Regions from separate parts of the Homo sapiens genome. Here regions 1, 2 and 4 are each linked to region 3. The links come from fine-mapping of genetic effects on gene expression. A gene starts in region 3. Each other region holds a variant in brackets. All regions are shown on one strand. Distances are from middle to middle.

Region 1 (5,151 bases), 72 kb after region 3:
TCAAAATACCCATAACTTAACCCTTAAATAGGTTAGCAAAAATGATAACTATAATGATGGTATATAGAGAGTAAGAGAAAGAAAAAAGAGAGGGAGATAAAGCAAACGTGGCAAAATATTAACAATCAGTGAATCCAAAGAGTATATGGAGTTCATTGTATTATTCTTGCAACTTTTCTGTAAGGTTAAAATTCTTTCAAAATAAGTTTTTAAAAAATGTTCATGTTAAAGTCAGGGGTAAAACCATGGAGACAGGTGTAGCGTAATAAAAGCAACGGCTAACACACACAGTGCTTTGCAATGTGCCAGGCAGTTTATACGTATTACATTGTGTAATCATCAAAGCCACCCTATCGGGTAGGTATTATTATTGTCATCCCCATTTTACAGATGGGGAAACTTTGGCTCCAAGAAGCTGAATATCTTAAATCAGCAAGGTCTTATAGCCAGTAAGTGGAAGAGCTGGGATTTTTTTTTTTTTTTTTTTTTTGAGAGAGGGTCTGGCTCTCTCACTTAGGCTGGAGTCCAGTGGTGCCATCTTGGATCACTGCAACCTCCACCTCCTGGGCTCAAGCTATCCTCCTGCCTCAGCTTCCCAAATAGCTGGGACTACAGGTGCATGCCACCACACCTAATTTTTGTATTTTTTGTAGAGATGAGTTTTCACTATGTTGCTCAGGCTGGTCTTGAACTCCACCGTGGCACAGCCACCGTGCCTGTGCTGTGAGCCTGTAGTCCTAGCCAGTTGGGAGGCTGGGGTGGGAGGATTGCTTGAGCCCAGGAATTCGAGGCTACAGTAAGCTGTGATGGCACCACTGCACTCCAGCCTGGGTGACAGAGTGAGATTCCAACTCAAAATAACCCAAAATAGCCCATTCCTGGCTACCGTGACAAAAGTCTCTTGGCACTCTCTCTGTCTCATCTCCCTCTGTCTCTACACACACCCACACACCCACTCATGGTTCTTTCGTTGTGAATCCCCCAGAGGCATCACTATATACAACAGCATAGCCTCTGCCTGGCCCCGATAACCACCCACCACTCTGAGAAGCTGCTCTGTTGGGGAAGATCTGGTTGCCATGAGTTCCTGTGACAACCACCCCAGAGGAGAGAACAGGAACCCTACTGTTTAAGGCAGATAGGTCCGATGCGCTATCTTGGACCCCAGTTGTTCCTTTAGGAACAGCTGAAGTTGGAAATTGTAAATGCAGTGCTGACCAGCAAGCAGTGGATGGGAAATTTAGGTCAAGGTGTTTACAAAAAGGAGAGAGCGAGGTCTGGGAAATCTGAAAACAGTTCTTGCAGCCCATCTACCCCAAACCAGTGCCAACTTCACTTAGGAACAGGTCAGAAGAAAGTGACCCAGGAATGGGGGCCTTTTTGGAGCAACTGGCTTAGTTAACCGGAAACGTTTCCAGTTTCTCTTCAGAGATTGGCTGGGATGAAGACACTGAGCTTCCTGCCCAGCCTGCTGGGCGCAGGTTGACGTTGGCTGGAGGAAGGAGAGGAGCCTAAGATATCCTTTAGAGGAGACACAATTTTGAAAAGGAGGATTCAGGCAATGAAAGTCTTAGATCCCTTTAGTGTGATTTTAAATTATTTTTAGGTGGCTACAAGTGAAATGTGAAACATCCTCTGTCACTTGAGGTAATACTATTAATTTCTATTTTATTTTATTTTATTTTATTTATTTTATTTTGAGATGGAGTCTCACTCTTTTGACCAGGGTAGAGTGCAGTGGCGCGACCTCGGCTCACTGCAAGCTCTGCCTCCCAGGTTCACGCCATTCTCCTGCCTCAGCCTCCCGAGTAGCTGGGCCTGCAGGCGCCCGCCACCATGCCCAGCTAATTTTTTGTGTTTTTAGTAGAGACGGGGTTTCACCGTGTTAGCCAGGATGGTGTCAATCTCCTGACCTTGTGATCCACCCACCTCGGCCTCCCAAAGTGCTGGGATTACAGGCATGATCCACCGCGCCCAGCCTTTATTTTTAATTTTTCTTAGAGACAGGGTCTCATTCTGTCACCCAGGCTGGAGTGCCGTGGCGTAATCACAGTTCACTGCACCTTCAACCTCCTGGGCTCAAGCCATCCTCCCACCTCAGTTACTTGAGTAGCTGGGACTACAGAAGCACCCCAGTATGTCTGGCTAGTTTTTAAATATTTTTGGTAGAGACAAGATCTCCCTGTGTTGCCCAGGCTGCTCTCAAACTCGTGGCCTCAAGAAGTCCTCCCGCTTGGACTTTCCAAAGTGCTGGATTACAGGTGAGAGCCACCTATTTACTTCAAATCTCACAGTATACGCTTAGCTGTCCCTTGCTGCCATACTGGCCGTGAGTCGTGACCTCAACCTGTTCTAAATTTTTAAGATGATTAAAGTGGACAGTGCCTCACGTAAACACCACCACCAGAGTGAATAACCAGGGGCCCAGCTTCCTCCTGAAGGTGCATTTATATGTTTATGTCAAATGCACAATCACAACCCTTGTGCATTATTGGACTGCCTGTATTAAAAGAGAATGTTTTGCTGAGAAGGTTGAGTGCCCTGGAAGGAAGTTGCTCAATCTAAGTGGAAACCAAACCCTAGCTTTGGTTTCCTCGGGAAATTTTGCAGTAACTACTTCTCTATAATTAGTGAGC[G/A]TGGGTTTGACCAAGCCCTTAGCCTAGATCCTGCCATAGTCCTATGTAGACATAGCAGTGCCCAGACCTAGAGCCATGAGACTGGTCATCTTTGTTATCCTGTAACCATGCAGGTGTTGAGTCTTAGAAGGAACCACCCAGTGTGGGAGTTTTCAGGTTTTTTTCTAAGTCTACAGTGGATTGAAGGGAAGGAGGAGGAGGAGGAGGAGAAGGAGGGGGGAGGAGAAGGCTGGGTTCCTAGCAGCTTTTCCGTCATGTACTGCACACAAGCAGGTCCACATTTGAAAGGAAGTCCTATGATCAAAAAAAAGTGGAAAGGAATTAACCACCATTGATTCCTCTAACTTTGCCGTCTTACTGATAAGGAAATGAAGATCCAGAGAGGTTAAGTGACTGGCCTGAGGTCATGAGTTTATGATAAATGGCAGAGGCTTCGGACCAGGGCCCGTTCTCAGTACTGCACACCAGTCACACTGATGACAGCAGAGTGACAGGTACTGTTGATAAGCCTCTCGATAGACAGACTGACAGTCAATCAATATCTACTGACTCCTACTATATAGGGAGCTTTATACTGGCTTCTGAGAGATACTCATGGCTTCTCTCCCACAAAGAGCTTACGTTATTCTGTGAGCCATGACACATGTTCAAAACATGTAAGTAACAGTGCAAAACAAGAGTGGTAGAGTGTCAGGAAAAAATGCCATAGGAATCAGCAGAGGGAGAGCTTTCTATGAGGAACCCTGGTGGGGGAGGTTTCACAGGGGAGGTGAGCCTTGGAGGATGTATTTCATTCACACAGGTAGAGGAGGGCAGCCCTTGGAGACACTGTGAGGACAGAGTGTCAGTGCAGAAATGGCAGGTTCTGTGAGGACATAACAGGGTGTCTTGGGTGGAGGTATTTCACACTAGGAAATACTGAGCGTGAAGGCTGAATAGGGGACTTGGAATGTAGCCATTAAAAGAGGATTTTGGCCAGGTGTGGTTGCTCACCCCTGTAATCCCAGCATTTTGAGGGGCTGAGGCTGGAGGATCATGTGAGTCTGGGAGTTCGAGACCAACCTGGGCAACATAGCAAGACCCTATCTCTACAAAAAATTTAAAAAATTAGCCGGGCATGGTGGTGGACACCTGTGGTCCCAGCTATTTGGGAGGCTGAAGTGGAGGATCTCTTGAGTCCAGGAGGTTGAGGCTGCAGTGAGCTGTGATCGTGCCACTGCTCTCAAGACTGGGTGACAGGGTGAGCCTCTATCTCTAAAACAAAAGATAGCTTTAAAAATGTATAAATAATTTAATTTTTTAAAAATGAAGGGGGAATTTAACCTTTATGCAATTATGCTCTACAAGGTGGTTGGGGAGAACAGGGATGAGATGACACTGCCTGGGGAAGGTTAGTGTGGCTGCAAGGTGCTGGGTACATTAGACAGCAAAGAGCTGTGGGTCAGGGAGTGGATGAGCACCCAGAACTTGGTGCTGGCAGAGCGAAGAGATCAACCCGTTGGCTTCCCCACCCTCATTCTCCTCCCAACTGACCTGCAAGTCACAGCACTGCAGTATCATGTCGACACTCACTGCTGGGTACGTAGCTTAGGCTTTCACCACCCCACCACCCAACCCGGTTTCATCATCACGCTTCTGGCCCTTGGTCCCACTTCCCTGCCCTACTTATGGCTACCAGAATTCTCTGGCTATAAAACCAATGGTACCATGTCTTCATGCTACTTTAATACTCAGGCAACTCAATGTCTGTAGGATAAGTCCACACACCTTTGTAGGGTAGACGAGGCCCTTCAATGCCTGGCTGTGCCTACTCATGTTCCCCTCTCACCTTGCACCCTTGGCTCCAGACTGATGACCTCACAGTTCCTCCTAAAAACAATGTGTATGACCCACTGTGCATTTCTGGAGCTGTACCTTTGCAAACAGATTTCCTTCTTTGCAGAAAGTCTTTTCCTATTTGCGTTCCTACCTTTTCTTTGGGACTCACTTCAAACATATCATCTACCATCTATCATCAAACATATCAGCTACCTTCAGGAAGCCTCCCTTCCTTGATGCTCAGATTCCTGGCACTGAGAGCCTGTTGGCTCTTCCACTGTTCCTGTTCTGTCTTCACTTGTTTTTTTATTATTTATTTATTTTTGAGATGGAGTCTCACTCTGTTGCCCAGGCTGGAGTGCAGTGGCGTGATCTCAGCTCACTGCACCCACCACCTCCTGGGTTCAAACAATTCTCCTGCCTCAGCCTCCTGAGTAGCTGGGATTATAGATGCCCGCCACCATACCCAGATCTTTTTTGTATTTTTAATAGAGACGGCGGGGGGTCTCACCATATTGGCCAGGCTGGTCTCGAACTCCTGACCTCAGGTGATCCGCCCACCTCGGCCTCCCAAAGTGCTGGGATTACAGGCATGAGCCACCGTGCCTGGCTCCATTTGTTTAAATATCTGCTTCCTCTGCAAGTGGTGAGCCCAGGACCTGATTCTCATTCTACGTATTCCCAGGGCTTGATGGGA
Region 2 (5,151 bases), 26 kb after region 3:
AGTCCCCCATTAGAGCATCTGGAGGAGATACCGAACCACTTTCCATGTTTTCTTTCTTCCTTCATACTAAACACACTTTCCTCTTGTATGTGCCTTGCTGTGCAAAGTGCAGTTCATTGTTAAAGACAGATATAGAAACAAATACTTACAATATTGTTAAAAACAAATACAGAAACAAATAGTTACAATACTGTTAAAGACAGATACAGAAGCACATAGTTACAATACAATGTAGCAAATTTTGTAATGGGGAACAGATTTACAATGAAGGTTGTGATTTCTTATTAAGATGGACTCCAGAGACTCTCAAAGGAGCTATTTTTAGAAAAATTGTGTTGTGAATTACATATGCAATTAATAATAATAGCTAACATTTCTTGATCACAATTTCTAGTTGCCTTGTGTGACTTAATCCATGTAAATCTCAGAGTAAGCCTAAGTGGTACATACTGTTATCATCCCTATTTTTGAGTTGAGGAAATTTAGGCTCAGAGAGATTAAGCACACAGCTAGAGAGTGCTTGAGCCAGAATTTGAAGCTGGATTGCTTGTCTTATCTCCAGAGCCTCCCTCATAAGCACTATGTTCCCTCCAATAATGGCCAGAAAGCAATATAATGAAGTTTCTGTTCTTGCCAGAAAGTTTGCCAACATTTTTTCTTTTTCTTTTTTTTTCTTTTTTTTTTTTTTTTTTGAGACGGAGTCTCGCTCTGTCGCCCAGGCCGGACTGCGGACTGCAGTGGCGCAATCTCGGCTCACTGCAAGCTCCGCCTCCCGGGTTCACGCCATTCTCCTGCCTCAGCCTCCCGAGTAGCTGGGACTACAGGCGCCCGCCACCGCGCCCGGCTAATTTTTTGTATTTTTAGTAGAGACGGGGTTTCACCTTGTTAGCCAGGATGGTCTCGATCTCCTGACCTCATGATCCACCCGCCTCGGCCTCCCAAAGTGCTGGGATTACAGGCGTGAGCCACCGCGCCCGGCCTTGCCAACATTTTTTCAAACTTTTCAAACATATAAAACAATATAGGTGTGCTAAGTGTAATGTCGAGTCCTGGATTGGATCCTGAAATGGAAAAAGGGCGTTTGTGAAAAAACTGGTGAAATCTGAATAAAATCTAACGTTTAGTTGTACCAGTGTTAATTTCTGAGTTATGTTCATTTCTGTACCATGGTTATGTAAGATGTCAACACTGGGGGGAATGGGACGAAGGGGTATATGGGAACTCTTTGGACTACATTTGCAATTTTTCCATAAATTATCCCAAAATAAGACTTGCATTTAAAATGACAACATTATGGATATGAGACTTCATTGATATGTTTCTCCCATGGCCTCTTCCTAGAGATCATCCTTATCCAGAATGTGGTGTTTATCATTCAAAGGGCCTAACACAACTATTACTATACTAAATGTCAGTCATGAGCAATGCAGAGGATTTCTCAAGGCGTTTGGGTTTCAGTGAGGGATCAGGATTATGGGTCTTCCGAGAGACCCTGCTCCTCTTTCAGACAGGGGCACTGCCATAAGTCCCTCTCCCAATCAACCCAGTTTCACTCTCACCAACTACCCAGCCCAGACTTAGGCCCACTGTTGACCCCACAAAGGAGGCCACACCCTCCCTGCAGCTCCTGTTGCTCAGCCTTCCCTAAGCTGTGCACCACCCTCTCACCCAAACGAAGGCAGCTGGCCCTGAAGTTCTCTGAGCTTGAGGACAAAAAAAGACCTCTGTGAGTTGTCAGGCTCTGTTACAGTCTGGGTCAGCAGACAAGAGTCCCAGGGCTCGGCCGTCTTCTCTAGGAGAGAAAATATTCGTGCCATATAGCGTGTTCTAAGAGTTCTCACCAGAAGCCCAGAAAGTTCTGTATTTACTCAGCATTCAAGGTGTGTACCCAGACCACAACGCTACCCTAGGGGGCCCAGCTCTAGGACAGGGGATGGCCCAGAGCTCTGAAATTTGAGGTATTTTCTAGTATCTAACAGTCATTAGAAGGGCAACAGCTCTGAGACCTTATTCAACTATTTATTGAAATATTTGTTTTTCCCCATTGTCTATTTATAAAGGTAACTGGGAGGACAGAGGTTCATAGAGGCTCTCAAAGAAGAAGCCTAGAAAACCCACCAGGGAGGGTGGGGAGGGAAGCCCTGGGACCTGATCAGGGCTGTGCAAGCCCGACCTGACCCATGACCTGAGGCTGACCCACAACCTGAGGACAAGGGAAGAGAAGACACTAGGGCCTGGCCAAGGTCTCTGGGAAAATAAATAGGCCTATCTGTTGTCCTTTGACCTGCACATACTGTTCTTTTGCAGGGAAAACAGACCCTGTATTTTTGGGATTCCTGAAAGGTGACCAGGTGAGAGCAAAGCCCAACTTCCTGGGGAAAAGCTCTCAGCGCAGTGAATGCTACATTCGGAGGTAGGAAGGCTCTGGATGTGAGTCTTCATGTTTGTTTTTTGTTTTTTGTTTTTTTTTCTCTAAAATTACCAAAAAAGAGGAATATCCACAGAAGCAGAAGTAGGAATGGGGAAGGAGGGGACAAGTTTAGACCAAGCTCTTCTGTGACCTCACTTCTGCTTTTGAAGTCCCACAGCTCTATAAGGTAAGGTTACTTGTGTT[A/G]TTAGCGCTTAAGTCAATATTGGAGGTGATAAGTTCTTGTTTTCTCAGCTAATTTACCTAATTTCTTCCGAAATTCCTATGAAGTATACTGGATTGTGAAATTAGTTCCTGCAGAGACACCTGAATCATGTCTCAAAGAAGGATCATTATCTTAGGGTACAATATCATGATTTTATAACATAAAACTAAGTCATGCAGCCCTACTGTCTTGGGAAAAAAAAAAACATTTCACAGTTTTAATAACAATTAGGATTATCATTGTTTATGTTTCCAAGTAGAAACAAAGTTTCTCATTTTACGTAGTTATGTGCGCTCCAAAGAGTCACGGACTGGGAGGCTGAAGACCTGAATTTTGCTCCAGTTCCGCCGTAACCATCTATTTGATAGTGGGCCTCAATTTCCTCATCTGTGAATGAGAAGTGACACTCCTTTATTGCTAAGAGGCTGCAATCATTGATATTCATTAAGCTGGAGAGGAAAGTGGGCATATGCAAATGTAAAATCCACATGATATGTAAGCATATACTACATAGGCAATGTAATCATGAAGGCATTATGATTAATAGTATTAAATGAGAAATGTTGATATCATAGCATTAGCAGAAGAAATTCTCTCTGGAGATAATTAATATTGAAGCTGGATGAATATTTATGGGATATTTGCCTTCCCAATTTTTCGCAATGATTTTCAGGAAAGAAGTTTAGACAACTTTCCCTGGTAACTTTGTCTCAATGTCTAAATGGCCTAATGGTGAGCGAAACATTCCTTTCATTTAAGCCACTGCTACCTTTGCTCTTAATTCAATGGGGTGGGGCAGAAAGGGCATGGATTTAGATAAGAGGCAGTCCTGGCTTGGCCACCTACTAGCTTTGTGCAAGGCAAATTACCCTTTCAATCCCAGGCCCCTTTTCTATTAAATGAGGATAATAATAATGCCTAGAGCTAGTTTAGATGAAAAATGCTTCATCAGGTGACAAAATGCTTATGATTATCACAGATTCTGCAGTGTTGTATTTATAAAAGACAAGGTGTGACCATTCTAAGATTTTAATCAATTGATTAACTTAATCCAATTAAATGCAGCTACATGGAAGAATCAATCACATAAACGTGTATATATATATATATATATATATATATATTTTTTTTTTTTTTTTTTTTTTTTTGAGACGGAGCTTTGCTCTTGTTGCCCAGGCTGGAGTGCAATGGTGTGATCTCAGCTCCATGCAACCTCTGCCTCCCTGGTTCAAGCGATTCTCCTGCCTCAGCCTCCCGAGTAGCTGGGATTACAGGCATGTGCCACCACGCCCGGCTAATTTTGTATTTTTAGTAGAGACAGGGTTTCTCCATGTCAGTCAGTCTGGTCTCGAACTCCTGACCTCAGGTGATCCGCCCGCCTCGGCCTCCCAAACTGCTGGGATTACAGGCATGAGCCACTGTGCCCAGCCAACATAATCGTTTTTTAAAAATTATATTTATATATACATATACATGTAGATATACACACCACACACACACACACACACACACACACACACACACACACACGTATATTTTTTAACTTTTTTTTTTTTTGAGGCAGAGTTTCGCTCTTATTGCCCAAGCTGGAGTGCAATGGCACCATCTTGGCTCACTGCAACCTCTGCCTCCCGGGTTCAAGCGATTCTCCTGCCTCAGCCTTCAGAGTAGCTGGGTCTACAGGCATGCACCACCACACCCGGCTAATTTTTGTATTTTTAGTGGAGACAGGGTTTCACCATGTTGGTCAGGCTGGTCTTGAACTCCTGACCTCAGGTGATCCACCCACCTCAGCCTCCCAAAGTGCTGGGACTACAGTATGAGCCACCATGCCGGCCTATATTTTAACTTTTATTCTAGGTTCAGGGGCTCAGGTGCAGATTTGCTATATAGGTAAATTACGAGCCACGGAGGTTTGGTATACAGATTATTTCGTCACTCAGGTAATAAACATCGTACTAAATAGGTAGTTTTTTTATCTTCACACCTCTCCCATCTTCCACCCTCAAGTAGGCCCCGTGTTTGTTGCTCCCTTCTTTGTGTCCATGTGCACTCAATGTACATAAACATAATCTGGAGTGAAAGAAGCCAGACATAGCAAAGTAGGTTCGGTCTGATTTTATGAAGAGAGCTTCTAAGAGTCTGGTCATGTTCTATTTCTTGATCAATGTGTTGTTCATGATTGTGTTCAGTTTGTAATCATTCATCAGATTGTGAACATAAGATGTGTGCTATTTTCTATGTATGTATGTTATACTTCAATAAAAAGTTAACATTTTTGTGTTTGAGATGATGGATATGCTGATACTGTGATCTGATCATTATATATTATAAATATCAAAACATCACTATATACCTCATGACTATGTACAATTATTATTTATTAATTTAAAAATGTGAACTTCTTTTGATTTAGAAACATTAGACACAACAGATTTTTAAAAAACAGCAACAGGCCAGGTGCGGTGGCTCACACCTGTAATCCCAGCACTTTGAGAGGCCGAGATGGGCGGATCAC
Region 3 (5,151 bases):
CCCACTGCAGAGGTCTCTATACCTATTGAGATGGTTCTGAATAAAGCCTTACTTACCATTCTTAAACAAGTATCATTGAATATTTTTTTCTTTAAAAACGTGAATGTCTAATTTTATTGTCTTCTAACCAACTCCCACCCTTCTCCCCACCAAACCTACTCCTCTCGTAAACCTAATCTCAGTAAACAAGTACCCCATCTTTCTACTTGTTCGGAACTAAATTTTGGTGTCTTTTACATCTCTACCCTCAATTTATCCTGAAATCAATGACCTCTCACCACCTCCACCAATTCCACTCTGGTCCAAGCTACATTATCTCTGGCCTGGATTAGGGCAACAGTTCCGGATTGGTATCCCAGCTTCTGCTCCTGCTCAACCCTTCCCCTACAACAAAGTCTATTCTCCATCCAGCGCCCAGAATGATCATTTTTAAAAGGCAAGCCTGGGGCCGAGCGCAGTGGCTCACGCCTACAATCGCAGAATGTTGACACGCCAAGGTGGATGGATCGCTTGAGCCCAGGAGTTTGAGACCAGCCTGGGCAACAATGGCGAAACCCCATCTTTACAAAAAATTAGCCAAGCATGGTGGGTGATGTGTGCCTGAAGTCCCAATTACTTCAGAGGCTGAGGTGAGAGGATCACCTGAGCCTGGGAAGTCGAGGCTGCAGTAGGTTGTGATCATGCCACTGCACTCCAGCCTGGGAGACAAAGTGAGATCCTGACTCAAAACTAAAAATAAAAGGTAAGGTTCTTTACTCAAAGAGTGGACTCCCCTTTCCACTGAGAGTAGAAACTCAAGTCCTTAAAAGGGCCTACAAGGCCTTATACAGTCTAATCTCCCACCACACTCACCTCTTTGACTTTATTTCTACTCCTCTTTGCTTTTTCCACCACAGCCAAATCAGCCTCTCTGCTGTCCTCAAACAAGCCCAGCACACAGGGCTTCTGCAAGCCCTTCTGCCTTCCTCTCTGCTAGCACATCCTTCCCTCAGAGAGGTACATGGATTACCCCTCACTTACTTCTGGTCTTGGCTCAAATGATATCTTTTCTAGGAAGCTTTCCCTGGCTGCCTCTAGTTAAAATTGCAAACCTCTCCCGGTTCCCTGCCCTCCCTCTTCCCTGCCCTCCCTCTTCCGTGCTTTTTCTCTGTAGTACTTAACACCATCTGACACAGCACATATTTTATTTGTTTATTATCTGAGGTCCCCACTAGAATATAAGCTCCATGAAGGAGCAGATATTTATGTTTTCTTAGAAAAGTATCTGACACGCAGTAGGTGCTCAATAAATATTTACTAAATACATATATATAATTATATAGTTTGTGAAGTATTTTTATGCAAATTACAGCAATTCATTTTTCCTTATGCCCTCTCTTCTTCAAATTCTCCAATCTTTGTAGTAACAATATGGATGACAGCAAAGAGCTATCAGAAAAAGAGTTGTTGGCCACTTAACAAAGCTCTTTAAAACAGATACCCCATATTAATCAACTACATCTATAAATTGAAAGCTTAAAGTCAACATCTTTATTAGCATAGATGAATCTAGGCGTGGAATTTTAAAATAATAGCGCAGAAGAGCCAAGAATCATCAGGAAGAAAAGTCTAATTCAGTTTGTCCTATCAATCTGTTAAACAAACAATAGGAAAATGCAACCTGCATTTGATCTTCAAGGAAACACTGGCCCAAATTCAACACGAACGCATTCAACACAAGATTCGACTCCCTTAAAATTTTCTATCTGCTTAAAACAAACCCCATTAACTATCAAGTGCCGTCGCTGGGTGTGTATGGTCTGCCGAGCGGATCGGGGATGTTTTGCTATGTTTTGTTTAACCAGATAAGAATTAGCGTTAAGGAAACGTTTCTTAAAGCCTCTGTATCCCCTGGACCATTAAACAACCCCTTCGTTGGGCTTTACACTGTGGTACCGGGGTCTTCTCGGGTAATTTCCCAGCTTATTTAACTCATCAGAAGCGAAGGGGCATCTCAGTCAGGCTCCAGTGATACCGGAGACAGACGGCAGATGTCTCAGGGGATCCCCTGGAAAGAGAGGCTCTCGCCCAGTCAAAGGGTGTCACGGACAGGAGGAAAGAGCGGACCGAGGCGCACGGTGTAGGTGACAGGTGGGCGAGCGCCGCAGGGCAACAGCGCGGGGAGTGACCGGCTGGGTGGTGGCGCGGAAACCGTCAACTCCCATCGTCAACCTGACAGCTTGGGCCCAGCTGGGCTGAGTAGTGCAGCGGCACAGGATCAAAAAATAAAATAAAGGTAGCAACACACCGCCGTCAGCCTGCTCGACCTCGCCCCCCGCGCGCTGCGAAATAAAGTTAGTGCCCAGTGGCCGCTGCAATGGCCCAGAGGGGCCCAGCCGAGCTCCCGCCCGCGGCCCGGCGGCTGTCAAAGGCGGCCCGGCGCCGCGAGAAGTCCCAGAGCCCAGAAGCCAGAGAGGACGCCCCGAGCTGGCGCGTCAGGCCGAGTGCCCTCGCGCCCTCGCGCCCTCAGCCCGGCGGTCCCGGCCCTCAACCCAGGCTGACAGCCACCAGCCCCAAACCGCCTCCCCTCCAGGCCACGCAGAGGGGCCGGGACCCGGAACCTTCTGCCGGCAGCGTCGGCGCCCGGCGGCCGCCTTTACCTGGTTTGTGGCAGCTGCGGCCGCCGCGCACTCCCCCTCTCCCGGAGAACCCCGAGCCGACGCCGCTGCCGCCGCCGCCGCGCACTCCCCACCCCCGCCCGCCCAGGTAACCCAGGAAACCGAGAACACCACCCCCTCCCTCCCCTCGTCCGGACCCAGACCCGCTCGTCTGCGCGTGCGCCCTTGGCTCCGCCTCGCGCGTGTAAGCCCCGCCTCCTCTGGGAGGGCAGCGCCGGCGTCGCAGGCGTGACGCGTGGAACTGCCGAGCCAATAGGGAAGGCAGGGGGGCGGGCCGACCCGCGGGGCTGCAGCCGGGGCCCGGTCTGGGTTTCTCAGCGGTCGGGGGTCGTACCCTGGGTCCGCACCTCCTCCCAGGGCTCTGCGTAGTGGGCTGCGTCAGACCCTGGGGAGTGCGAGCACCGTTTGAGAAGCACCAAACACAAGCGCATCGTCCGCCTCTTCCATTCAACACAGACTGTCAACCTGTCCCATTGTGTAGGTCTAGAGGATGAAGATAGAAGAAATAACGGGAAGGAGTCAGGAGAGGGAGAAAGGGTTACCCACAAGGCACCCCTAGCCTTCCTCTGGGACCTGGAAAAAGCCATATTGTAATGGTTACCGTCGGCTTCTTTCAAGAAACAAAAAGAGCTTTGCAAAGCCACTGCAGAAGTAATTCAGTGCAGTGGTGTATTTTCCAACCGACTCCTGTTCAAACACGGTTTGTATACAGTGCGCACTGTCAGTGTCATATGCCCTAATAGACCAGTCCCTCCAGAGGGTGGGAGCTGTAGGTAAAATCCAGGATGTTTTGGCTGCATCCCCGGCTCTGGGCCCAGCACGCTGCTGGCAGACTGCTGCGGTAGGCAGTTTGGCATTTCAAGGGCCACCCTCCTCACCTCCTAGTCACTGAGACAGCAACGCCAGAGGTACTGGGAAAAAGCCTGAACTGTAATCGTTCGGTAGTTTTCAAGTTCTGCCAAACAATACAAACTATTAATAAGCAGATAATCTACAAATTGACAGGAATTGCTGTAGAATCAACAACTCCCATAATTTTTTGCACAGGAATTATGAAATAGAAATAATTCAGGATATTATGTCCCAAGCCTATATACCAAATGTTACTCCCAATTCCTCAAACTCCCATCTAACCCAATGACAAGCAAAGTGCGTTAAGTTGCCCACTGATGTGGTTTAGAGGGTGCTCTTGGGGAAAATTCCCCACTTTAAAATATGTCTTCTCTGACGTCTGATGTTTAACCATTAGCAGTTCATATCTTTAGGCGAAGATTGCCCACTTCCTCTGGCAGGTAGTCTTTTATTTTTATTTTTTATCTTTTTTTTTTTGAGACAGATTCTCGCTCTGTCGCCCAGGCTGGAGGGCAGTGGCCGGATATCGGCTCACTGAACCCTAACAAGTGCAGGAAATAAATGTCTCAGGGAACTTATCACTCATTTAAGCAGTATATAATGAGCACCTACAATGCGCTAAGTATTGTGCTAGGTGCATGGGCCTGAACTGAAACAAAAAGAGGAAGCCAAACTTAACCTGTTTCGTCATTTTACCTAAAGCTGTGTCTACTCTTATTTATACATCAACTTTCACCCACTAATCTTAAAAACACCCCCCTTTTTTAATGGACAAAAGAAGTCAAAGAAATATTAAGTAACAAGCCAGTTTCTGTTAACCTTGAGTAGAAAATAATAGATTATCATGATTTCATTAAAGCAAAGAAAATGAGACAGACTTTAGATGATAATGGTATACAATTGGCCCTCAAAGTATTATTTGTTTGTAAAAGGCACAAAGTAATGCCATTTGTGACTATTATTTTTTTCGGTACCAGTGTTTTTTATTTTATTTTATTTTCAAGATGCAGCTTCACTCTTTTTCCCTGACTGGAGTGCAGTGGCACAGTCTCGGCTCACTGCAACCTCCGCCTCCCGGGTTCAAGTGATTCTCCTGCCTCAGCCTCCCAAGTAGCTGGGATTACAGGAATGTGCTACCATGCCCGGCTAATTTTGTATTTTTAGTAGAGACAGAGTTTCATCATGTTGGTCAGGCTGGTCTCGAACTCCTGACCTCAGGTGATCCACCCACCTCTACCTCCCAAAGTGCTGGGATTACAGGCATGAGACACCGCTCCTGGCCTCGGTTCCAGTATTTTAACTAAGCTACTGCAGTATGTATTTTATTCAATAGTATCTTAGAACATCGATACTAAATATACATATCAAATAAAACTTAGTTTAAAAGATTTCCTAGGAACACACACAAAATGTGTAGTGAAGAACATGAAAAAGAAGAAAAAAGTAAAGTAATAGGTATATAGAAGAAAGCTCTACTTGGCCGGGCGCAGTGGCTCACGCCTGTAATCCCAGCACTTTGGGAGGCCGAGGCGGGCAGATCACGAGGTCAGGAGATGGAGACCATCCTGGCTAACACGGTGAAACCCCGTCTCTACTAAAAATACAAAAAATTAGCCGGGCGCGGTGGCGGACGCCTGTAGTC
Region 4 (5,151 bases), 100 kb after region 3:
CTATAGTCATAGGCCCATCCAGATTCAAGGAGAGGGACATAGGCCCTAGTTCTTGGTGAGAGGAATGTCAATATCACATCGACACACCATTGTAAGAATATGTGGGGTGGGAGATTGTGTTCAGGCCATTTTGGAAAATACCATATGCCACAGGGTGCAGCCTGGACATTTTCCGCCTCATGACTTCTTGGCTGGTACTTTTGTTCTAATTCGTACTGAGCAGGAATTGACTACATGTAGATTAAAACCTTCCGTATGTCCCCAAATCCCCCAGAACAAAAAACCAACAAAAAAGCTGGGCGCAGTGGCTCACGCCTGTAACCAGCACTTTTTGAGAGGTTGAGGCTGGCAGATCATGAGGTCAGGAGTTCAAGACCAGCCTGGCCAACATGGTGAAACCCCATCTCTACTAAAAATACAAAACTTAGCCAGGTGTGGTGGCACATGCCTGTAATCCCAGCTGCTGGAGAGGCTGAGGCAGGAGAATAGCTTGAACCCAGGAGACAGAGGTTGCAGTGAGCCAAGATTGCAGTGAGCCAAGATCACGCCATTGCACTCCAGCCTGGGCAACAGAGCAAAACCCTGTCTCAAAAAAACAAACAAACAAACAAACAACAACAACAACAACAAACCCTTGGGGAATATTATTTGCAAAATAGACAACAAAAGGTTAATTAGCTTTAAAATGTAAAGGACACTTATAAATCAGTGAGATTCTCCCAATTAGAAAAAAGAACTGAGGACTAGAAGGACAATTGACAAAAGAACTTTAAGTGGCTAGTGTGCATTTCAAAAGTTTACCGCAACTTAAAGAGTGTAATTTTTTTTCTTTTTAGAGACTGAGCCTCAGTATGTTGCCCAGGATGGGCCTCAAACTCCTAGCTTCAAGCAGTCCTCCCATGTTGGCCTCCCAAAGTGCTGGGATTACAGGCGTGAGTCACTGCAACCAGCCAATAATGTAAATTTTAATAAACAAACACCACCTATGTAATTGGCAAAAATGAAAAAATAAACTATGCAAAGGCAAAAACATAGGTAAACGGGCCCTCTCCAACACTCCCGCTGGTGGAAGTATAAAGTGGTACAAACTTTCTGTAAGGCAGTTGGGGAGTATCTATTGAAAGTCTTAAATTTTTAAATAATCCTGAGTTGAAATTTATCCTAAAGATATTAATAAGGACACTGAGGGTCGGGCGTGGTGGCTCATGCCTGTAATCCCAGCACTTTGGGAGGCCGAGGCGGGTGAATCATGAGGTCAGGAGATTGAGACCATCCTGGATAACATGGTGAAACCACATCCCTACTACAAATATAAAAAATTAGCTGGGCATGGTGGCACATGCCTGTGGTCGCAGCTGCTCGGGAGGCTGAGGCAGGAGAATTGTTGAACCCGGGAGGCGGAGGTTGCAGTGAGCTGAGATTGCACCACTGCACTCCAGCCTGGGCAACAGAGCGTGACTCTCAAAAAAAAAAAAAAAAAAAAAAAAAGGACACTGATATTAGTATGTGGGTGTTTATTGGTTTATTGTTATTTATCACATCAAAAAACACATAGAAACACCCTAAAAGTTCATCAATAAATGAACTGGTGAGAGTTTATTGTCCATATAATAGAGTATGATACTATTATGTAGTTGATCAAAGTAATGTTCATATGCACATTTATTTAAATGGAAAACAAAAATACGGAAAAGTATCACAGGATCACATTTTTTGTTATATATATATCTTACAAAAATATATGTAAAAGTATTGTGTGTGTGTGTTTACAACATTTCTGGACAAGATTGTAGTGATGAGGCCATTATTGAGTAATGAAATTACTGTTATTTGTTTTTCTTGTGCCTTTATTTTCCAACTTTCTAAATGAAAATGTGCTGAATACAAATAAATAATAATGTAAGATAAAGTAAAAATAAATTTTCATTTAAGGTATTTCTTAAAAAGGGGGGTGAGGAAGGGTATTTAGAGTAAACCAAATCTGGAACTGGACTCTGCTCTGACGGCGTGACCTTTGCCAAGTTACTTCACCTCCTTAACCCTCAGTTTCCTGACTTACTCAATGGGCACAATAAATTCTACTACATAAGGTTATCCTGAGTTAGTTTTCCCATTTCCATCCAGCTAATAAAAGCTTCTTGCTGCACTCTCTCTCCTGAGCCTTCTCCCTTCTCTGATCCCCTTAACAAAGTGGTTCGAAGCAATCATTTAGCATCACCTGTTATTACTACCTGCTTAGTGACTAGACGCCCACTTATTTGCAAAAGCCCTGCATTTTCTGGAATTAGCCTGCTATTCCGTGTTTTCCACTTAGATTCACTCAGAACCTGGTCCATAAGGAGACGTATGCACTTTTGCATACACAGAATACACTCAGGAATACTTCTGTGTTTTCGTACCTCGGTGTAAGATGCTGAGCCCACGGCTGGGGATCTCGTGTGACGAATGTCTGCAAATGTTTGAGTAAGGAGATGACTTGGGGAGGAAAAGGGCTGGGCTATTTGGTGGAAATCTGAATTTAGATGAAGAGGCTTGACCATAATTGGGAAGTTCTTTTGCTAGCAGTTGGGCAACTCACCAATATGAAGAAAGCTCTTGAGTGGGACGATGGGAA[G/C]GCCCGAGCATAGCTTCTTTTGGGGAAGTTATCCGGGTAGCCAGGCCTGGGACGCTCCCCGCGCTCCGCCCTCACTTCTCTCTTCCCCCAAAAACAGGCATTGAGAGGCTCTTACTGCCCTCACGTGGCCCCTTCTGGAACTGTCTTTGAGGAGACCCGCCCAGATTTAAACTGAATCACGGGGGCTGGAGAGCACACACGCAGGCTTGCCAGTTAAGCTCATCTGTCCCCACTTAAGCTTCTAGCTACCAGGAAGCCGCTCTTCGAGCCTGTTTTCAAGCCTTTTTGGCCCTTCCGTCTCTTAAGTCCATGTTGTCTGAGCAAAGACCCTTTCTCCGTTGTAAGGAATTCTAAATCCTTTCGGCTGCAGCTTTCAGCAGCGCCTGGCATCCTGGCGGATGAGAAAAAGGGGAAAAACAGCAGCCCAACTTGAGAACCAGAGCTGGGCCGTGACGCTGCTGCGGGGGACTCTGGGTCCCGTCTTCCCCGCTTTCGAGACCTGTGGTCTTCAAATGTGCTCGATAGTACACTCCCTAAAAGAATTTTTGCAAAGTCCTGTTTTTCCCTGTTAAATCAAGTTTAGCTTAAAGCTACTCACATATTTTAAGTTCAGCCTAAAGGTTTCTCTGTGCCTGTAACCTAAAGGGAAGTGTAAATAGTCCCTCTCCCCCTTCACCCTCTCCTCTCCCGCTTTCTGTTTCTGCCTTATCTCTCTGACTCTTCTGCCTCCCTCCTCTGTTTTTAAGGGCCTGCCTGGATAACCCAGGATAATTTGCCTGTTTTAACGTCAGCTACTTAGTCATCTAAATTCCATCTGCAAAGTCCCTTCAGAGCAGTACAAAATTAGAATCTTGAAATCTTTAGAATTCGGCCAGCCACAACAACGATCAGCATTTTGCCAACCTTAGGTATCCAGGAGTTTTTGTTTTTAATTACAGTGATTTTTAAAAAACAGCTTATTTATTTATTTGACAGGGTCTTGCTCTGTGGCCCAGGCTGGAGTGCAGCGGCATGATCATAGCTCACTGTAACCTCAAACTCCCGGGCTCAAGCAATCCTCCTGCCTCAGCCTCCTGAGTAGCTAGGACTACAGGCACTTGCCACTACACCCGGCTAATTTTTAAAAGATTTTGTAGAGATGGGGGTCTCACTATATTGCCCAGGCTGGTCTCAAATTACTGGCCTCAAGTTGTCCTCCTGCCTCAGCCTCCTAAAGTGCTGAGATTACAGATGTGAGCCACTGTGCCCACCCAAAACAGCTTTATTGAGATATAATTCACATGCTATGTAATTCACCCAAAGTGTACCTGCAATGGTTTTGGGTATATTACATTATTAATTTTAAAAATTGTAAAATATGTATATATCATGAAATTTGCCATGTTAATAATTTTTTTTTTTGAGACAGAATCTTGCTCTGTTGCCAGGCTGGAGTGCAATGGCACGATCTCAGCTCACTGCAACCTCCGCCTCCCGGGTTCAAGCGATTCCTCTACCTCAGCCTCCTGAGTAGCTGGGACTACAGGTGCGCACCACCGCACCCGGCTAATTTTTTACATTTTAGTAGAGACGGGGTTTCACCATGTTGGCGAGGATGGTCTTGATCTCCTGACCTTGTGATCCGCCCGTCTTGGCCTCCCAAAGTGCTGGGATTACAGGCGTGAGCCACCGTGCCCAGCCATTAATAATTCTTAAGTGTACAAGTCACTGACATTTATTACATTCGCAATATTGTGCAACCATCACCACTATTTCCAATACTTTTCATTTTCCCAGGTAAGAATTCTGTAGCCATCGAGCAATAACTCTCCATTCCACCTCCCCACAGCCCCCGGTAACCTTTGATCTACTTTCAGTCTCCATGAATTGGTACATTCTAGATACCTCATATAAATGGAAGCGCATATATTGCTTGATAGTTTGTGTCTGGCTTATTTCCCACAGCATAATGTCCTGACGGTTCATCTGTGTTGTAGCATGTATCAGGATTTCATTTGTTAGGCTCAGTGATATTCCATTTTATGTACATAACGTATTTTGTTTATCCATTCATCTGTTGATGGACACTTGGGTTGTTTCCATCTTTTGGCTACAGTGAATGATATTGCAATGGACAGTAACACAGAAGCATCTGTTCCAGCCCTTGTTTTCTATTATTTTGGGTATAGTCCTAGGAGTGGAACTGCTGGATCATATAGTAATTCTATATTCAACTTTTTGAGGAACCACCAAGCTGTCTGTTTTCATTCCCATCAGCAACGGACAACGTTTCCAGATGCTCTCCAGTACTTGTTTTGTTTTGTTTTGTTTTGATAAAAGCCATCTTAATACTGTAAACTGGTGTCAAATTGTGGTTTTTATTTGCATTTACCTAATGACTAATGATATTGAGCATCTTTTCATATGCTTATTGGCCATTTGTATATCTTCTTCATATAAATGTTTATTCAAATCCTTTACTCATTTTTAAATTGTTTGCTTTTGTTGTTGAAATGTAGTTATATTCTGAATATTAATTCCTTATCACATATAGAGTT

What was found.
Region 1: its variant is fine-mapped to the expression of LYST in whole blood (TOPMed, PIP 0.98).
Region 2: its variant is fine-mapped to the expression of LYST in whole blood (INTERVAL, PIP above 0.99).
Region 4: its variant is fine-mapped to the expression of LYST in whole blood (TOPMed, PIP above 0.99).

Annotation. Positions count from the first base shown.
Region 1 is chr1:235,936,290-235,941,440 of GRCh38, forward strand. All of the region lies in intron 2 of LINC02768 (long intergenic non-protein coding RNA 2768), which reads right to left. All of the region lies in intron 2 of LOC105373215 (a long non-coding RNA gene), which reads left to right. Among named protein-coding and RNA genes, the nearest start is that of LINC02768, 34 kb to the right of the region's middle. The variant G/A (reference allele first, on the strand shown) is at 2,637.
Region 2 is chr1:235,890,634-235,895,784 of GRCh38, forward strand. LOC105373215 (a long non-coding RNA gene) reads left to right here and starts at 1,652. Exons shown (of 5, transcript XR_002958490.2): 1 at 1,652-1,880; 2 at 2,308-2,597. RefSeq lists a silencer at 1,537-1,586. The variant A/G (reference allele first, on the strand shown) is at 2,615.
Region 3 is chr1:235,864,204-235,869,354 of GRCh38, forward strand. It overlaps LYST (lysosomal trafficking regulator), which reads right to left and starts at 2,703. Exons shown (of 53, transcript NM_000081.4): 1 at 2,640-2,703. RefSeq lists enhancers at 1,761-1,810, 2,181-2,280 and silencers at 2,401-2,820, 2,871-3,170.
Region 4 is chr1:235,969,183-235,974,333 of GRCh38, forward strand. It overlaps LINC02768 (long intergenic non-protein coding RNA 2768), which reads right to left and starts at 3,329. Exons shown (of 3, transcript NR_183724.1): 1 at 2,579-3,329. RefSeq lists a silencer at 1-53 and an enhancer at 2,868-2,917. The variant G/C (reference allele first, on the strand shown) is at 2,615.